Regions from separate parts of the Homo sapiens genome. Here region 2 is linked to region 1. The links come from fine-mapping of genetic effects on gene expression. A gene starts in region 1. The other region holds a variant in brackets. All regions are shown on one strand. Distances are between the middles of the regions.

What was found. PIP is the estimated chance that this variant, and not a neighbour inherited with it, causes the effect.
Region 2: its variant is fine-mapped to the expression of MAP2K5 in whole blood (INTERVAL, PIP 0.94).

What each region holds. Positions count from the first base shown.
Region 1 is chr15:67,539,494-67,547,973 of GRCh38, reverse strand. MAP2K5 (mitogen-activated protein kinase kinase 5) reads right to left here and starts at 5,271. Exons shown (of 22, transcript NM_145160.3): 1 at 4,504-5,271. The coding sequence starts at 4,638. It overlaps MAP2K5-DT (MAP2K5 divergent transcript), which reads left to right and starts at 5,344. Exons shown (of 1, transcript NR_186334.1): 1 at 5,344-6,906. RefSeq lists enhancers at 1-167, 6,129-6,178, 5,831-6,331, 8,365-8,454 and a silencer at 5,136-5,255.
Region 2 is chr15:67,802,949-67,811,512 of GRCh38, reverse strand. It overlaps MAP2K5 (mitogen-activated protein kinase kinase 5), which reads right to left. Exons shown (of 22, transcript NM_145160.3): 22 at 4,399-4,867. The coding sequence ends at 4,763. Among named protein-coding and RNA genes, the nearest start is that of SKOR1, 18 kb to the left of the region's middle. RefSeq lists enhancers at 6,006-6,866, 6,867-7,729. The variant G/A (reference allele first, on the strand shown) is at 4,408.

The DNA of each region.
Region 1 (8,480 bases):
TTGTTCTTTAAAGCAAATAAAGTGGGGCAATCATAATGACAAAGAGGTAAGAAGTTTAAACATCAGTAATATCTACTAGTCATTTTAAAGCAGGGTACATTTGATGATTTTATATACATTTTCCAGCTAAAGTGACTTATTTCCAAGCGGCCTTCTTCTGCTCTTGACAATATAACATGTACCTAACTAACCTAAAGAAGGTTTCAAAAGAAAACCGGGATGGGCGCAGTGGCTCACACCTATAATCCCAGCACTTTGGGGGGCCGAAGTGGGTGGATCACTTGAGGTCAGGAGTTCAAGACCAGCCTGGCCAACATGGTGAAACCCTGTCTCTACTAAAAATACAACAAAATTAGCTGGATGTGTGGTGTGTATCTGTAATCCCAGCTGCTCAGGAGGCTAAAGCAGGAGAATCACCTGAACCTGGGAGGCAGAGGTTGCAGTGAGCCGAGATCACGCCACTGCATTCCAGCCTGGGCAACAAAGCGAGACTCTGTCTCAAAAAAAAAAAAAAAAAAGAAAAAAGAAAACCGAAGTTTACATATTTTGATGATGACCATTTTTTGATACTTTTCTTCTTCCTTTCAATAAATCAGACAAATATCTGACAGATCCAAAACATCATTGAGCATCTACAACATGCCACGAGCATAAAGATCACAAAGCTGTAGGCTACAGGACAATAAAACTTGATCCTTGACTTTAGGAAGATTATAAACTGGTTACAGAGATAAAGACAAACCTGAAAGACTAGTAATATAAAACACTTAAGAGTATAAGCACCAAACAAAAGACATAAACAGCCAATAGTATTTGGTAACTCAGGAGAAAGGAAAAAATCACAGACTCAGTTTAGACAGAAATCTGTGTGTGTGTGTGTGTGTGTGTGTGTGTGTTTTCTTCTTTTTTGAGATAGGGTCTCGCTCTGTGACCCAAGCTAGAGTGCAGTGGTGCAATCACAGCTCCCTATAGCCTCGACCTCTAGGTTCAAGAGATTCTCCCACCTCAGCCTCCCTAATAGCTGGGACCACAGGTGAGTGTCACCAAGCCCCCACTAATTTTTGCATTTTTTGTAGAGATGGGGTTTTGCCATGTTGCCCAGGCTGGTCTCGAACTCCTGAGTTTAAGCGATCTACCCACCTCGGCCTCCCAAAGTGTTGGCATTACAGGCCTAAGCCACCACTCCTGGCCCAGAAGTCTTATAGATGAGGGGAAATCTGAGCTTGGAGACCACAGAATACAAAAAGAAGAGGGGAGAGGGTTGGGCATTCTCTCTCATCACACACTAACCAGACCTCTTGTATAGTTTTCCCAAAACTAGGAACTCAGTCTCCAGGGAAAAAGAGAAACACAGAAAGCTGCAAAACAGAAGACCCAAATGTCTCTACCTTTGAGGGTCAGGTCAGCCTCCATAGTTCAGCCAGTCCCTGATGATTCAGACAAAAGACAAGGCCCAGAGAGACCGACTGACTTGCCCAGGGTCTCCCAGCTATTTGATGCACAGTGACTGGAGCCCTCAACTGCTGACTTCAGGTCCGAGACACTCAGTTATGGCTGACTCGGTGACTACAACCTGCTTCTGGCATCTGTGTCAGGTTCTGCCAAAAATTAGCTGGGTGGCTTTAGCAAGGTATTTTCCCCCTGTGGGGTTCATGCCTCTTCATTCGAAATGAGTCTGAATTAGATGAGGGGATTCTTCCAGGTTCCACGTGACTTTAAAGTTTAAGGTTCCAAGCCAGAGATGCTGACGTGTCTCTTGGTTCTTGCCTTTTCTTGATGAAGAGATGAAGTAAACCTGGAGAACAGATCACAGGAGTCTGCCATGATCTGGGCTTGAACATTTGCTAAAATGGAGCACTAGGAGATAGCACTGAACACCCACTGCCACAGGTCCTTCGTCAGGCCTTTCTGACAAAACATGCTCCACCTGGGCTTACCTAGCCAAAAGTGTGCAGACACCTGGCATGCTGAGCTCTAGTGGTGGGGCCACTCGTGTTTCCTGTTAAGCCAGTCAGCCTTGAGCCAGGTACAACTTAGAGATGCTCAAGAAACAGAAGACCCAAGTCCAATCCCTTATAATAACAATCCCATCAATAATAACAACACTAATGGAGCGCTTACTATGTGCTAAGTTGTTCTGAGTGCTTTACATGTATCAACTCAAGGAGTCCTCAGAACTCTAGGAGGTAGGCATTACTTTCACCCCTCCCCAACTTTTTTTTCACAAATAAAGAAACTGAGATACAGAAGATACTTGCCCCAGTAGTACAACTTGCAAGTTAAACAACCTGGCTCCAGAGTTTGTGGTCTTAAACACTGGGCTATTCTTGAAATAATCACATAACCAAATAATATAATCACATAATAATCAACCTTCCATTGTTTTAAATGAGTAAGAGAAAACCCATCTTTCTCATCACAGTCACAATCTCACATAATCTTTCCAAGTCTTTGAGGAAGGTACAAGTTTCCCTGTTTTACAAATAAGGAAACTAAGGCTCAGAGAGGTAGACTGACTTGCCTAGTCAGTGGGACAGCTTGCAATTAAACCCAAATTCCTTGACTCTAAACCTAGTGTTCTGTCCACAGAACCATAATTGCATGCATCCTCTTTTAAGCTCCCTTCTTAAACAAGTATTTTGGGGTCCTATGAAGAAACAAAAACAAACATATCTATCTCCTCCAGAAGTTTACCATCTAGTGGAGGAGACAAAGAATCATGATCAAACATGTGCTTTGCTGGGGGACCCACACAAAGCTGTGACGACACAGAGGTGGGGCACATAACCAAGAATGACACAGAGAAAAAGCACAACTTGGCTTGGAAGGACAGGTGGGAATTGACCGGTGAAGAGCAGAGTGCAGACAGCCTGGACACCTGGGAGAAATGAAAATCAACCTATGTAAGTGAGGCACAGAAGTTTATGGGGCCGTGAAGAGAGATGACACAGGTGCCAGGCAGACAGGGGCCAATCCAGATGTGCCCAGAGGACCACATGAAGGAGCCTGGGCCTTATCATGAGGGGAAATCTGTATGTGCATGACTGTGTGGAGAACTCCGGATACAAAGAGAAGGATGGCATTTGATGCACAATATGGAAAGCTCCTGGTCAAGGCACCCAAAAATCTGCATGGCCTGGGCAGTCAGTAACATCTAGAACTCAAAATGAAGTTATAGAAATCAAATTTTGATTAAGTTACCCAAGACAATGAAAAATCACATCACAAATCTTCCTCTTCCCAAGATCCTGCCACCTTGCCCACTCTTAACTTGCAGGTAGTGATGTGCTTTTCGGAATGTCCGCTTCTGTCTTCCATGCCTCAGTTATTCTGCATGTAGAATGGGCACAAGGCACCCTGTCTATCTCAAATGAATACCAGAAAGATTAGAAGCGGCTGCAACATGTAGGGAAAGAAACCTACTAAGTCAATGAAACAAAATTTTAGTTCTGGTACTGACTCTCCCACTCAGGAGCTCACAGCTTTGGAAAAGCCATTTCACCTCACTGCTCCTCAGTAACTATCTGCAAAAAAGAAACATCAGCTGAACAGGCCACCTACAGTGTTACACTCTGCTCTAAAATTCCATCATTTTATTTGAAATATATTCTGAAAAATCTGAATGTAAAATATCACCAATTCTAAGATGCACATTTTCCCTTACTTTTACCGTCTCTGAAACTGGACTCATTTTAATAACGGATGATGTGTCATACTGTCATGGTTAGCATTTTTTTCTAAGTAAAATGTCTTACATTCAATGATGCTTTAAGTTTGCTCAGGCTGGGCACAGTAACTCACACCTGTAATCTCAGCACTTTGGGAAGGCCGAGGCAAGCAAATCGCAGGAGTTCAAGACCAGCCTGGGCAACATGGCAATACCTCGTCTCTACAAGATACAAAAATTATCCAGGTGTGATGGCATGTGCCAGCTACTTGGGAGGCTGAGGTAGGAGAATCGCTTGAGCCCAGGAGGCAGAGGCTGCAGTGAGCCGAGATCGTGCCACAGCACTGCAGCCTGAGCGACAGAGTGAGGCCCTGTCTCAAAATAAATTAATGAAACAGTGTGCTCAAACATGGTAAGTTAAAGTTGTCCTTTTTCCCTTTCTCAGCTGGTCACCAAGTTCAGAGAACTCAGTAGAAAAACAAGGCTGGAATCTGTCCAAGGACATTCCCCGAAACACTTGGGGGGAAAAAACCTCTCTTCTAGATTCAGCAGTTTGCATTTGCGTGGTTGTGTCTATATGTGTGTCCCAGCCCGGGCCATGAGCTCTCTGAGGGCAGGGGTTCAGTCAGATTGATCTATCTCCCCAGGGTCCTAGACATTTGCCAGGTTTTAGTGGTTGCAATTTATCAATGCTGTGCCTGAAGCAATAAAACTGCCTCCACAGGAAGCCAGCAGTAGCCATTGCCACTGGCTCAGGTCACCAGTGGTCAAGGTGCTGACTACTCAAGTCCCTGAGTCCCCCTTGCTGGCATCCGGACACTGAGATTACCACTCACCAGCACATCCCTGAAGAGTAACTGCGGCCCGGAGTGCACTGTCCAGTCCACCGCGCCACTATTTGGGATCTTGATGCGAATTACCAGCACCTGGTTCTCCATGGCAGGAAAGGGGCCAAGGGCTAGCCACAGCATTACAGGTTAAAGAGGCTCACATCCTGGGGTATGGGAAACCCACTGGCCGCTGGTTAGGAGGGGGCTCCAAGAGGTGACAAGGGGAGTGACGGGCAGAGGACAGAGGGTGAAAACAAGGGAATGGAGGATGAGGGGGAGGGAAGAGGGGAGGGGTGATCAGGAACGCACCCGCAGGCACCGAGCCTGCCCAGGCTGTCGGGGGTCTGAGGTGTCTCCCGGGGAGGGTGCACCGGGAAGCGGGCAAAGGCCCGCAGGAACTAGCGGAGGTCGGAAGGTTCTGGAGTTGAGCGAACGCTATGGTGAAGGTCTCTGCCGCCGTGTGGGTATGAGGAGGCAGCAGGGCAAGGACTCGGTTTGGGGGAGATACAGCGGCAGGTGTCCACCGCTCGTCAGTGGACTAGGAGAGGGTCCTCGACTGGAGGGGACTCAGTCCGGGGCTATTAAGAAAGAGCCCCAGGGCCGCCACACCACGGAGAGTCCCCGCGGGAGGTTCAAGGGGCGAGTCTTCTGCCCCACCCGGAGACACAGGGCGCGGCGCGCGCAGGCTGAGCTCCGGCCACCCGAGGCCGCGCGGACTGGCGGCGGCTGCGGCGGCGGCGACGGCGGTAGCGGCGAGAGGAGGAGGAGGAAGGCGGCGGCGACACTGTTACTCCGGAACCAAAACGCGCGGCGCCGGAACCCCGGGAGCCGACGAGCGGGACCCGCCTCCCGCGGCGCCATGTTGGAAAAGGGCAGCAGCTCCCGGGAGGATGCGCCCCCGGCGTGGGAAGCCGAGGAACCGGCGCGCGGCGCGCGGCGCGTGGCGCGTGGCGAGTCGGGGAGAGACTGGTCTTGCTCGCTCAGGAGACCCTCATCGCCCACAGAGCGCCCGCGGCGACCCGGTCACGGCCCTTCCATTTCCTGACCCTGCTTAATGACAGCGAGGTGAAAACATCTACCAAACGAAGGGTAAAAGGCTGGAGTCCGCCAAAAGCCAATTTAAGGCTTAACATTGCAGACCGTTTGTCTTTACAAAAGCTTCAAAGACGGGGCTGCAGCTCCCGGTTATCCCCACTTTGTCAAGCCATGAATCTGAATGTTCGTGGGGTTGTGTGCATCGAATCAGCAAGAGCAAGGCAAGAATTCAAGAAATAGTTCTTTTTTATCCCCCCTTCCAAGTCACAGGTTCAGAGGATCATCATCTTTCTCCCACATTAGCAAAACATATTTGCATTTTTCAGTGAAGTTCTTTACCGCACGAGTGCCCTAAAATAGCAAACAGTTCCCTGTTCAAAAGCAATAGTAAAGAAATTCGCCGAAGAGTTTAATTGCCTGGGGACAGCTGCAGTAGTCGCATCATCGTCTCTTATTAAACTGTTGCAGAAATATTCGGTCTAGTCCATGTATTTTCAACTAAATAGCACTGCTTACGCAGTTGGTGATATGGTGATATCACGGAAGTAGCAATAAACCTTGGTTATCTTTTTTTTTTTTTTTTTTGAGACGGAGTCTCGCTCCGTCGCCCAGGCTGGAGTGCAACGGCGCGACCTCTACTCACCACAACCTCAGCCTCCCGGATTCAAGCGATTCTCCTGCCTCAGCACTACCACCCCCACCAGCCCCCAACCCCTGCCGAGTAACTGGGACTACAGGCGTGCGCCATCCGTGCCCGCTCATTTTTGTATTTTCAGTAGAGACTGGGTTTCACTATGTTGGCCAGGCTGGTCTCAAACTCCTGACCTCGTGATCCGCCCACCTCAGCCTCCCAAAGTGCTGGGGGGATTACAGGTGTGAGCCACCGCGCCCGGCCAACCTTGGTTATCTTCAAATGCCTTGTTACCTCAGATTTTAAAGTGCATAAGGTTGTAGAACGATGGTGCCTCTACAGAAGTTTCTTTACAAATTGTAATGTGTAGGTTCGTCCTTTATTTCTTTCTTATGAAGGTGCACGAATTGGCTTTACTTTCTGGGGTTGAATTTTGTATAAACTCGGTTGAGGAGGCTTGTCAGTTTCCCTTCTAACAGTAAGGTGCTTGATTAATGTGAGAGAAAAAAATTAATGTTGGTCATTTTCAGTTACAATACCAAAATTTTTTCTGCATACTTTACTCTGAGTTACTTTTATATTTAATTTGAAAGGCCATTGTAGGAGATAAATTATCACATTTTAAGTTACTGTAAATCAATAGCTTAGGTAGAAATTCATTTAGTCAGATCCTTCAGATATTCTAGGAATTTCCCCTTTTCACCTGCACTTCACTTCTGTGAAAAATAAACCGTTCATCAAAAGTCCTCATGTACTTTTATTAAAAGTTCATTTCCTATTATTTTAGAAAATAGACCACGAAACTAGAGATTTTCTATGAACCTGTGATTTGTTAAAATGTCTCTTTTATTCGAAGTACCGTGGGGAAAACCAACTCAATTTGCCAAATTTGCATACATATTCTGAAGCTTTTCTTACACTAATGGCAAACTCATATTTCTGTTCCAATATTTGCAGAGCCAATATAATTACACGTCAGCTCTTCATAGCCTTTATGTAGTAAGAAATCTTAACTTTGATGATTTGAGCAAGGATTTTTCCAGAAAGTTATAACTCTCATTGCGAGAAGCATCATAATCACTGATAATACATTCCACTTGATATCATAAATGACAAAATATAACTTTCTGATCTTTACCAAATTGAATACTGTCTAAATTTAAGGAATATTTAGTATTTAACATCGAAGTTGCATGTGATCTTAAGAAGTTTGCATTTAGTACTTTTTTTCATTTTATTTTATTTTATTTATTTATTTTGAGACGGAGTCTTACTCTGTCACCCAGACTGTAGTGCACTGGCGCAGTCTCGGCTCATTGCAACCTCCACCTCCCAGGTTCAAGCGATTCTCCTGCCTCAGCCTCCCAAGTAACTAGGACTATAGGTATGTGCCACCACGCCCAGCTAATTGTTGTACTTTTAGTAGAGACGAGGTTTCACCATGTTGGCCAGGCTGGTCTGGAACTCCTGACCTCAAGTGATCCACCCGTCTCGGCCTCCCAAAGTGCTAGGAATACAGGCGTGAGACAGCGCGCCAGGCCTTTTTTCTTGTTAAATGATACAAGTCAGAATAGTCACTCAGGTACTGGCTGAGATAGTTTACTAGCCATTAAGCAAACTTACTGTAAAAAAAAAACTGTGCTTACTTGTAGTGTTCCTACTTGAGGGATTTACTTTTCACTAAGTGTAATAGAAAATCCCTCCCCTCATGAAGTTATATTCTGATGGGGAACACAGACAAATGAGTAAAATATATGTTAGATAGTAGTAAATGCTAACAGAAAAATGAAATCAGAAGGGAAAATGGTAAAACAGTAAGTGCACCAGTGTGATAACACTAAGGAATATGAAAACTGGCCTATATTGGCTTCAGTTAACTGGCAAATTTAACTGAAAATAGACACATTACTGAAAAGTTAGATGTCTAGTGATTTTTTTCCTTGTGATAAAATACACATAAAATTTACCATTGTACTCATTTTGAAGTGTGCAGATCAGTAGTGTTACATACATTCATTCATCCTGTTGTACAGCCAATCTCCAGATTTTCATCTTGCAAAACTGAAACTCTATATTCATTAAACAACTGCCCACTTCCCCTTCCCTCCAGCCCCTGGCAACCACCAATCAACTTTCTATTTCTATGAATTTGACTACTCTAGATACCTCATATAAATAGAATCATCCAGTATCTGCCTTTTTGTGACTGGCTTATTTCACTTGGTATAATGCCTTCAGGGTCCATCATGTTGTAACATGTGTCAGCATTTCCTTACTTTTTTTTTTTTTTTTAAGATGTACTCTTGCTGTGTCATCA
Region 2 (8,564 bases), 260 kb before region 1:
TATCTTTGAGGTGGCATCATGGCCCTCTCTGGGCTCCATCCCATGTGGAAGCCGCTGTCCAGTCCCTTCTGAACCACCCTGTGGGGCCCCAGGGGCTGCCAGCCTGCAGACCCAGCATCATCCCGAGGCTTCACCTGGAGGTTCCACTGGCCTGAGTGTGCAGACACCTGGAAGCATATGCCTCCCCAAAGATGCAGGTCTGTTCAGGCAGGGCACCCGCAGCTTCCCTCAGTGAGGCTGTACCATCCATTTCACCTCACTGGCCTGACCAACCCCCTAACTGGGCTGGGCCTTGGGTAGGGGCTCTGGGTCACACTACTTTGGACCACAAGGTCCCCGCCACATCTGGAGAAGAGGGTTCCACCTCTCCTTCCTCTGCCCCAGTGGACCTGTTGGAACATCTCCAAAGCCCTGGGATTCTGTATCCTGCATTCCCCACATGTGAAAACCAAAGACAGAAGCAAGGACGATGGGCTGAGTGTGAGAGGGCCTCCTGGCCTTCAAGCCAGAGACCTAGAAGCAGAGGAGGCACCTGCCTGTCATTGTGAACTGGGGCCCCGTGAGGATCCTCCTGTCCTGGAAACACTTCCTTCTAGGCTCCCCTGAAGGTCTGAGAGGCCTGAGGCTGCCTCCAGTGAGGGTTTCGTCTCTCAGAAGCTCCAGTTAGAAAGTGAGTGGGCGATATTGAGGATTGGAGCAAGAGATTCGAGCAGGACAGTGACAGGCCCCAAGGGCCTCAGGTCTGAGGGCCCCATCTCTGCACCCTACCTTCCCTCCCTCCTACCGTCCCACACCACAGGCACCCTCCCTATGCAGGCCCTGGGCCAGGTGCTGGGATAGAGGTGAGTTAGCCTCATCCCTGCCCTCAAAGGGCTCACAGTCTATATCCAGAGAAGGAAATAAAGAAGCTGCCAGCTAGGCGTGGTGGCTCACGACTGTAATCCCAGCACTTTGGGAGGCTGAGGCAGGCAGATCACTTGAGGTCAGGTGTTCAAGACCAGCCTGACCAACATGGTGAAACCCCATCTCTACTAAAAATACACAAATTAGCCGGGCATGGTGGTGCATGCCTGTAATCCCAGCTACTCGGGAGGCTGAGGGAGAAGAATCGCTTGAACCTGGGAGGCAGAGGTTGTGAGCTGAGAGTGCACCATTGCACTCCAGCCTGGACAACAAGAGCGAAACTCTGTCTCAAAAAAAAAAAAAAAAAAAAAAAAAGGCAGCAAAGAGGAGGTGCTGTTTGAGAGGGGCCTGAAAGGAAGAATAGGAATTAGCCACATGGATGGGGTGAGGGTGGGCGGGGGTGGCTTTCCAGCAGGGAAAGAGCTCATGCTGCCTAGGCCAGTCTCAGGCACTGCAGTGTTCTAGGTCTTAGCCTTCCCGCGACCTCTGAGGGCAGGGGCAGCTTGGCCTCTGGCCCCCAACGGTGACTAGAGGAATCACTTCAACAGGCCAAAGAGGGACCTGCCTCCGGCCAGAGGGGTGTTAGCAGGAGAACCCCTCAGGGGTCACTCAGCTCCCCATCTTCTCGACTTCAAGGCAGAGGGGAATTTATAGTTGGGGGCTGCCCCAAAGTAGGGGCCCTTGACAGGGGGTCATGAGTGAGTGAGCTCCAGGGTCTCCACAAACCCTAGAGTTGTGAACAAAATTCTGTGCGTGCATGCATGTGGGTGATGTAATTTGGGGGCAAGGATGCTCACAGGATGAACCCAAATGGTGAGAACTCTGCTCTGGGACATCAGGACTGGGAGCAGCTCCAGGACACCGTGAGGTCAACCCCTACATTGACAGATGAGGAAACAGACTCAGACAGGAGACGTGCTTTGTTCAAGATCACCCTGAAAGTTGGTCTCCAGGCCAAAGCATGCGTCTGGAGCAGTGTTTCTCAGTGCTGTTGTGGGGCGCTCTGCACCTGTATCCCTGGGGAGCTGGTCAAAGAGATCCTTGGCCCGTTCCCAAAGGTACTAACATTATCTTGGCAAACCAGAGTTTGGGAGCCTCTGTGCTAGAGGACAGGGCATGTGTCTGTGTGTACATATGTGCACATGTGTGCTGTGTGTGTGGAGTTGACTATCAGAGCTGTGGCTAAGAGCAGGGCTCTGGGTCCCAAACAGTGCTTTGCTACTTGTTGGGTGACCTTGGGTAAGTCATCTGGCCTCTCTGTGTTTCAGTTTCTTCATCTGTAAAACGGGCAGAATAATCGTATCACCATCTACCTCCTGGGATCATGGTGGGGATTAAACGAATTGATACAGTGAGCCCTAAGCACACTGCCCAGCAAGGTACCTGCTCACTTTTCCTACCGCCCTTGACTTGGGATTTGGGGCTGACAGGTTTGCTGGATGAATCTTCTCAAAATAAGGATACGCTTTAGTCTGGGTGGTGGCTGATTCACATTCCAAGGTAGTCAGCCCCGTGTGGGAGCCCCTAAGCTTTCCCCACTCTCTGAGCGCCTCTTCCTGAGAAAGTCCATCATGTGCACTGCCCGCAGTTCTCCCTGCCCTGAGCACTGGGCCAGGGTCTTCCTGGCCGGGGTCCCATCCAATTCTGTGACCATCTAACCCCAGGGAAATGGCAGGTGCTCAGAGAAAGCTGGGAGCCTGTGCCTTGAAAAGCATTACTAAAAAGATGATGAGCCGACTCTGCCCTGGGAAGCACATGATGCCTCACATAGGGTGCCCTTCCATGGGGCACTGGACTGCACATGGGCTGGGAGTCACAGCTCCACAATTTTGGCCATTTGACCCACACACATTTATTGTGCAGAGCTGAGGCCTTGTTCTTTGTACTGGGGATACAGTGTGAAAAAGACTAGAATTTCTGCCCTTGTGGAGACCCCATTCTAATGAAGGGCAGAAGAGGAAGGAGACAGAAGAGAAAATAAGTAAAATTAGTGATGTATCACACAGTTCTGAATGCAGTAGAGGAAAATGGTGCAAGCAATGGGCACAGGCGGCCCCAGGGCAGGTGCGGGAGGGGTGCGATTTTAGAGTGGTTAAGTAGGTTTCACTGAGATGCCATTTGAGCTGAGACCTGAAGGGTATAGAGGTGAGCCATGTGGATGCATGAGGGAAGCATGCTCCAGGTACCAAATGCAAAGGCCTACATTAGCTGGCATAATACTAGCTGCTAGTAACATATAAAACCCCATCAAAATAATTGATCCCTAGCTCACTATTTTTATTTATTTTTGAGACAGGGTCTCACTGTCATTCAGGCTGGAGTGCGGTGGTGCCATCACGGCTCATTTAGCCTCAACCTCCCGAGCTCAAGAGATCCTCCCACCTCAGCCTCTCAAGTAGCTGGGACCACAGGCATGCACCACCACACCCTGCTAATTTTTTAAGTTTTGTTAGAGACAGGGTCTCACTATGTTGGCTAAGGCTGGTCTTGAACTCGGGCTGAAGCAATCCTCCCCCCTCGACCTCCCAAAGTGTTGGGGTTACAGGCGAGAGCCATTGTGCCTGGCTCCAAACTCACCCTTTATAATAGCACCAATCCCACCCATGAGATGGAAGCCCAGCTGGGCAGTGGCTCCCTAGCAACGCGGTACCCTGTGGAGGGAGTGTGAACCTTCCATGGCTAGACGTCTCTGCTGTGACCCTGGGTGGTTATGTGCCCGGATGTTCAAGGAGCAGCAAGAAGACCAACTGGCTGGAGTCAAGAGAGAATTTTGGGTGATGGAACCAATATTCTTTGAAGGCAAAGACAGCAGGACTGGATGTGGGTGTGAAAAGGGAGTCAAAGCCATGTCCTGGCATTTTAGGGAGTGCCAAATGGCTTGGGCACTGGGAGGATGGAGATGCCATTTACTGACACAGGAAAGCAGTAGGAGGAGGTCTGGGTGGGGTGGGGGATTAGGAATTTGCTTCTGGACGTGTTGAGATGCTATTCAGACCTTCAAGTGGAATCCTGAGCCCCTTGGAGCCTCAGCTCCTCACCTGCAAAATGGGGGTAGCCAGGCTTACCTGGCATGTGGCTGAGGGGATTTCCTGAGAGGTGAGAGGTGGCAGGTGTGGGGTCAAGGGCAGTGAGGAGCAGGGGTGGGGCTGGGGTGGAGAAGGGCCTCTCAGAACAGCCCACTCCCTCCTCAGCCACGCAGGTCAGGTGGATGTGTCTGGCAGTCCAGTAAGGAGCTCATGGCGGGGGCCTGAGATCCGGGCCTACTCCTTGCCATGGGACCCATCCCAATGCCTCCGTGCTTCTGTTTCTCATCTGACAGTGGAGCTGGGCTGTGGGCCTCAGCACAACTGCGAGGAGCTAGCAGGAGGCTTGCAGGTGCCTGGGCAGGCAGCAGGCACTGTCACACACATCCCTGCTGAAGTGGAGATCCCACCTGCCCCCAGCCCTGGGGGGGGTCACAGACCCCCTGGACCACACAACTCTTATGGCAGAGGCTGTCACAAA[G/A]CATTAATACTTTTATTCCCATCAGTGATGCTGACGGGCCTGACCCTTTATAGAGAAAAACATTAGGAAAACAGAAGTGGGCAGGGACCCTGGGAGCCTCCATTCTCAATGCCCCACCCTTTACCTCTCTGCCAGTGTCAGCGCCTTCAAACCAGAAGGTATGGGGATGGCCTGGTGGGGTGGGCCACACATGGGGCTCCCCAGGCAAGGCCACCTGCTGACAGAGGTGAAGGCGAGGGCAGGGAAGCCAGGGCCCAGCAAAGCTCTTCTGGCGCAGGCAGCATACGGAGAAGGGCGACGGGTGGGTTGTTCTCCTTGGTTACTGGTCCTGGGCTTTCAGTGCCCTGCGGCAGCCTCACGGGGGCCCCTGCTGGCTCCGCCTCTCCTCCAGCGCCCGGCACACCCACATGGACACCACGGCGGCATTTCCATCATTGAACTGCACGATGAACGGGTGGCCCTGCGGGGAAGAGGAGGAGGCTGTGACAGGCAGTCCTCGGACTCCCGCGCTCATTGTACTTTCCAGGGCCTGCCCTCAGCCTGGATCTGATCTCTTTCCCCAGTAACCCTGTGAGGTAACGAGGGAGGCTATCAGCTCCATTTCACGGCCTAGATAATTGAGGCCCAGGGACGAGCAGTGACATACTGGTAGTCAGCACCAAGCGTGTGGAGTGCTGGCTGGCACATCTCAGACTCTGCCACCTCTTCCTGAGGCTCGCACTAGCCTGGAAGGTGCTTAAGGGCGAGGGCCTGTCTTCGCTGCACACTCTGCCTGGCCCTTCCTCTGCCCGGCATCACTCGCACGGCCAGTCAGCCGAGGCCTGGCACTGTGTTGCCAGCTTTCCGGTTCAGTTGGTGCCCAGAGACCAAAGAATCATCTCGTCAGAGGCTATGTCAATCCCTTTTAGCTTTCTCCTTTGTCTACAGCTCTCCTATAAAAAGAAGTCACCACCTGCAATTGGAGGGAAGGCAAACATGTCAGGGGAAGTGGGGAGGGGGAGGAATGTGCTGGGCTGTGCACAGGATCTCTGGGTTCCTGGTGAGAAGTTCCATTGGGGGCTGGACTCTGGAGGGGCCGGCCCTGTTGCCCTGTGGCCTGCCTCTGGTTCTAACCCACTTATCACACAGGCAGACCAGATTCTATTTAGCCAGTTCTCTTCTCTGCTGTCCTGAAGCACCAAGATTTACATCCACAATCTTAGGGCCTCCTGGGAATTCCCAGGGAAGGTCAGAAAAAAGCAGGGACAACCCCAGGGTTACCAGGCCACAGTCAGAGGTGAAAGGAAAAGTGAAAAGCCTTCTTTTTCTTCCTCTTCACCAAGTGGCTTCTTGCCCAGGAACTTACACCAAGTGGCTTCCTCTCCTACCCAAAACTGTGCAGCTTGCATGGTGAGACTCGGGGAGCCATAGCGAGGACAGAGAATGGGGGAGATGAGGGCGCCATGTGCCTGCCCCCAGCTCTTCTCCCTCCCTGTCCAGCGGCCGCTTCCTCGCTCCCCCCAGCTCTCTCCTCCCTCCAGCTTCCTCAGCCCCTCTTGGGCCTGTCCTCCACCTGCACAGGCTGGGCTTTCAGGGTTGCTTTCCCAGCACACCCCAGCCTTGACTGCAGCCCTAGAGAGGCTGCTTAAAGAGCCGCATGGCCTCGCCACGAGCTCATCACAAAGCCAGGAGGGATGTGGACCCTGGCTGTCCCAACCTCAGCGCCTGCAGGGGCTGTCAAGGACCAGGCCTGGGTAGAGCAGGGGACGGCATGGCCCCTCTGGACCACAGGTCAGAACTGTGGGGGACAGGAGAATGCTCAGGCCGCCTCATCCTAGGCTGATGCAGTGCCCGCCCCCAACCTTCTCATTCGAGGTTGGGAAACCTGCCCTGGGGACACCCTGCGTGGGTCTATCTCAGAGGCACACAGAGCACTGTCAGAGCTGCGAGGAGGAGGAGGAAACTCGGCTTCGAAGATGCCAAGGCACTCAACCCCGGGCAGGGACCCGCTGAGACTGGGGTGGAGCTAGGCCTGGAGCCCAGCTGGGTACTTCCCATAATCTGCTCATAGCACTCTGGGAGGCTCCTGACACACCTGCAGGACCCCTAAGGGCACAGGGGCCATGGAGGCCAGGCTGGGTGTGGCCCTGTGGATGGCAGAGGTTTGGTCTGGGGCCTGAGCAGGAGAGGCCCAGGAAGGACTGGATTTTGGCTTCCAAGTGTTCTCCTCCCCATATATATGCCCACCCCACGGCTGCTTTCCCAAATCGCTGCCTAGACAGAGGAAATCCTTCCCAAAGTCCAAGCGTGCACACTTCCTCTCAGGAGGCTCAGGAGGGGCGACCTCGTGCCCTTCTAAAGAACAAAGGGAGAAGCTGTGCTCACGAGTGACGGGCCCCTCCCCCCACGCCCGGGGTAACACAGTGTCACTTTCCCAGAATGCCGGGTGACTTTGGGGCCCATATGCTCCATCTCTGTTATCATCTGTTCTGGAACAAGCAGAGCGGAACTGCAGGAGGGAGCGTAGAGGCGTTCCTCCACATTCCAGAAGGGCGGATGGCCGCACTGCAGGGAGGCAGTTTGCCCAAGTGCCCCGGTAGGCGAGGGGAGAGGGCTGCTCAGCTGCAGCCATACTCAGCTCCGGTGGAGATGCCGGCCTCTCCTGCCCTCCTCAGCTGGGAGGTGACCTCGTCTCCTGCTGCTGCTGAGGCATGTTGTATCCCCGATACTTTACCCCACCTGCAAGGGAAGCGACCTGGACCCACTGCCTTTGTCCCAAGCCACTGTTGATTGGTTTAGGGTGGTTGCCTGACAGGGAGAATCACAGGGGACAGACATGGAGGGGACCCAGCGTCCTAGGCTGTGCACTGTGGACTTGGTAGCTGCTGGCAGCTGTTCACCACCATTTGACTGGACACAACAGAGAAAGCCAGTGTGTAGGACCCGAGAGCAGGAGGTGCTGTCCAGAGGCAGGCAGGCGGGGGGTCGTGACGGCACTGGAGACCCTGGGGCCATTACACCCAGAGCCTGGCAGCGTCTCTGCCTGCAGGGTCCACACGGTCACAGGATCCTGTGAGGCACCTCACAGGCTGGGGCTGGTTTCTGTTATTTGCAGCCAAAGAAGTGTTAACTCACACAGGTGGGCACAATCACCTCCACTTTACTGATGGAGGCTGCAGGGTCACAGCTGACCTGCCTGAGCTCCCAGACATGGGACTGAACCACAAGTCTGTAACCCAAACCCACTGCCCTGGGCTCTTCCTGGATAGAGGAGGGAGAATCAATATTCAGATTGCAATTCCCCCTCATCTTGTTTCTACCTTGGCGACTCAGGCCTGCCTAGCCAGAGGTGCAACCAGGGCTGCAGGCTGTAAGCCTAGACCATCCCAGGTCTTGACCTCTATCAGCACTGTCCCCTGGACACACTGGGAGAGTCACTGACTCCCCCTCCTCCCATCAGCCCTGCATGGGATTCAGGGAAAATACACCATGACCCCCATGTTAGAGGAGAGGACACTGAGGCCCAGGGAGGGAAGACAGGGGTTAGGAGCTGGCACTGAGCTCATGTCTCCTGGTTTCTATTCTGGAGTATTCTCGGGGCTGGCCTGGCTCCCCTGGGACCCTGGCAGGTGTGGCTCTCTCCTTCCTCCTAGACTGTAACTGACGCCCTTAACCCTGTGACATGCACAATGCAGGCATTCCTCATGAGTTTAGCAAGCAAACAAAATCTGATGGAGAATTTGGGAGGAAGCACAAAACTCACTTGGCCACCCAGAGGTGCCCGAGTTCCACACAGCCAGATGCCCTAGGCATCTTGGCAAGGCCAGACTCTTAAAGATGGATGGAGATAGCACACTGAATAATACCAAGTCCAGCTGGGAGGTGACCCCATCTCCTTCGTATTACTGATGAGGCACATTGTATCCGTGATGCTTTACACCACTCTGCAAGGGACTGACTTGGACAAGGAGTGCTGTGTGCTAGGCATTTGCCAAAGGTTTGTCCTGATGTGCCCACTGGCTCCCATGCTCACTGTGGCCCACACACAGCTATGCATCTCCATTGTGCTGAAGAGGAAACTGACACTCAGTGTGCAGAACTTGCCCAAGGGCAACCAACCAGGCAGTTGGGCTAGAACCAGAACATGGGTCTCCGACTCCAAACGCCTTGCTCTCCTG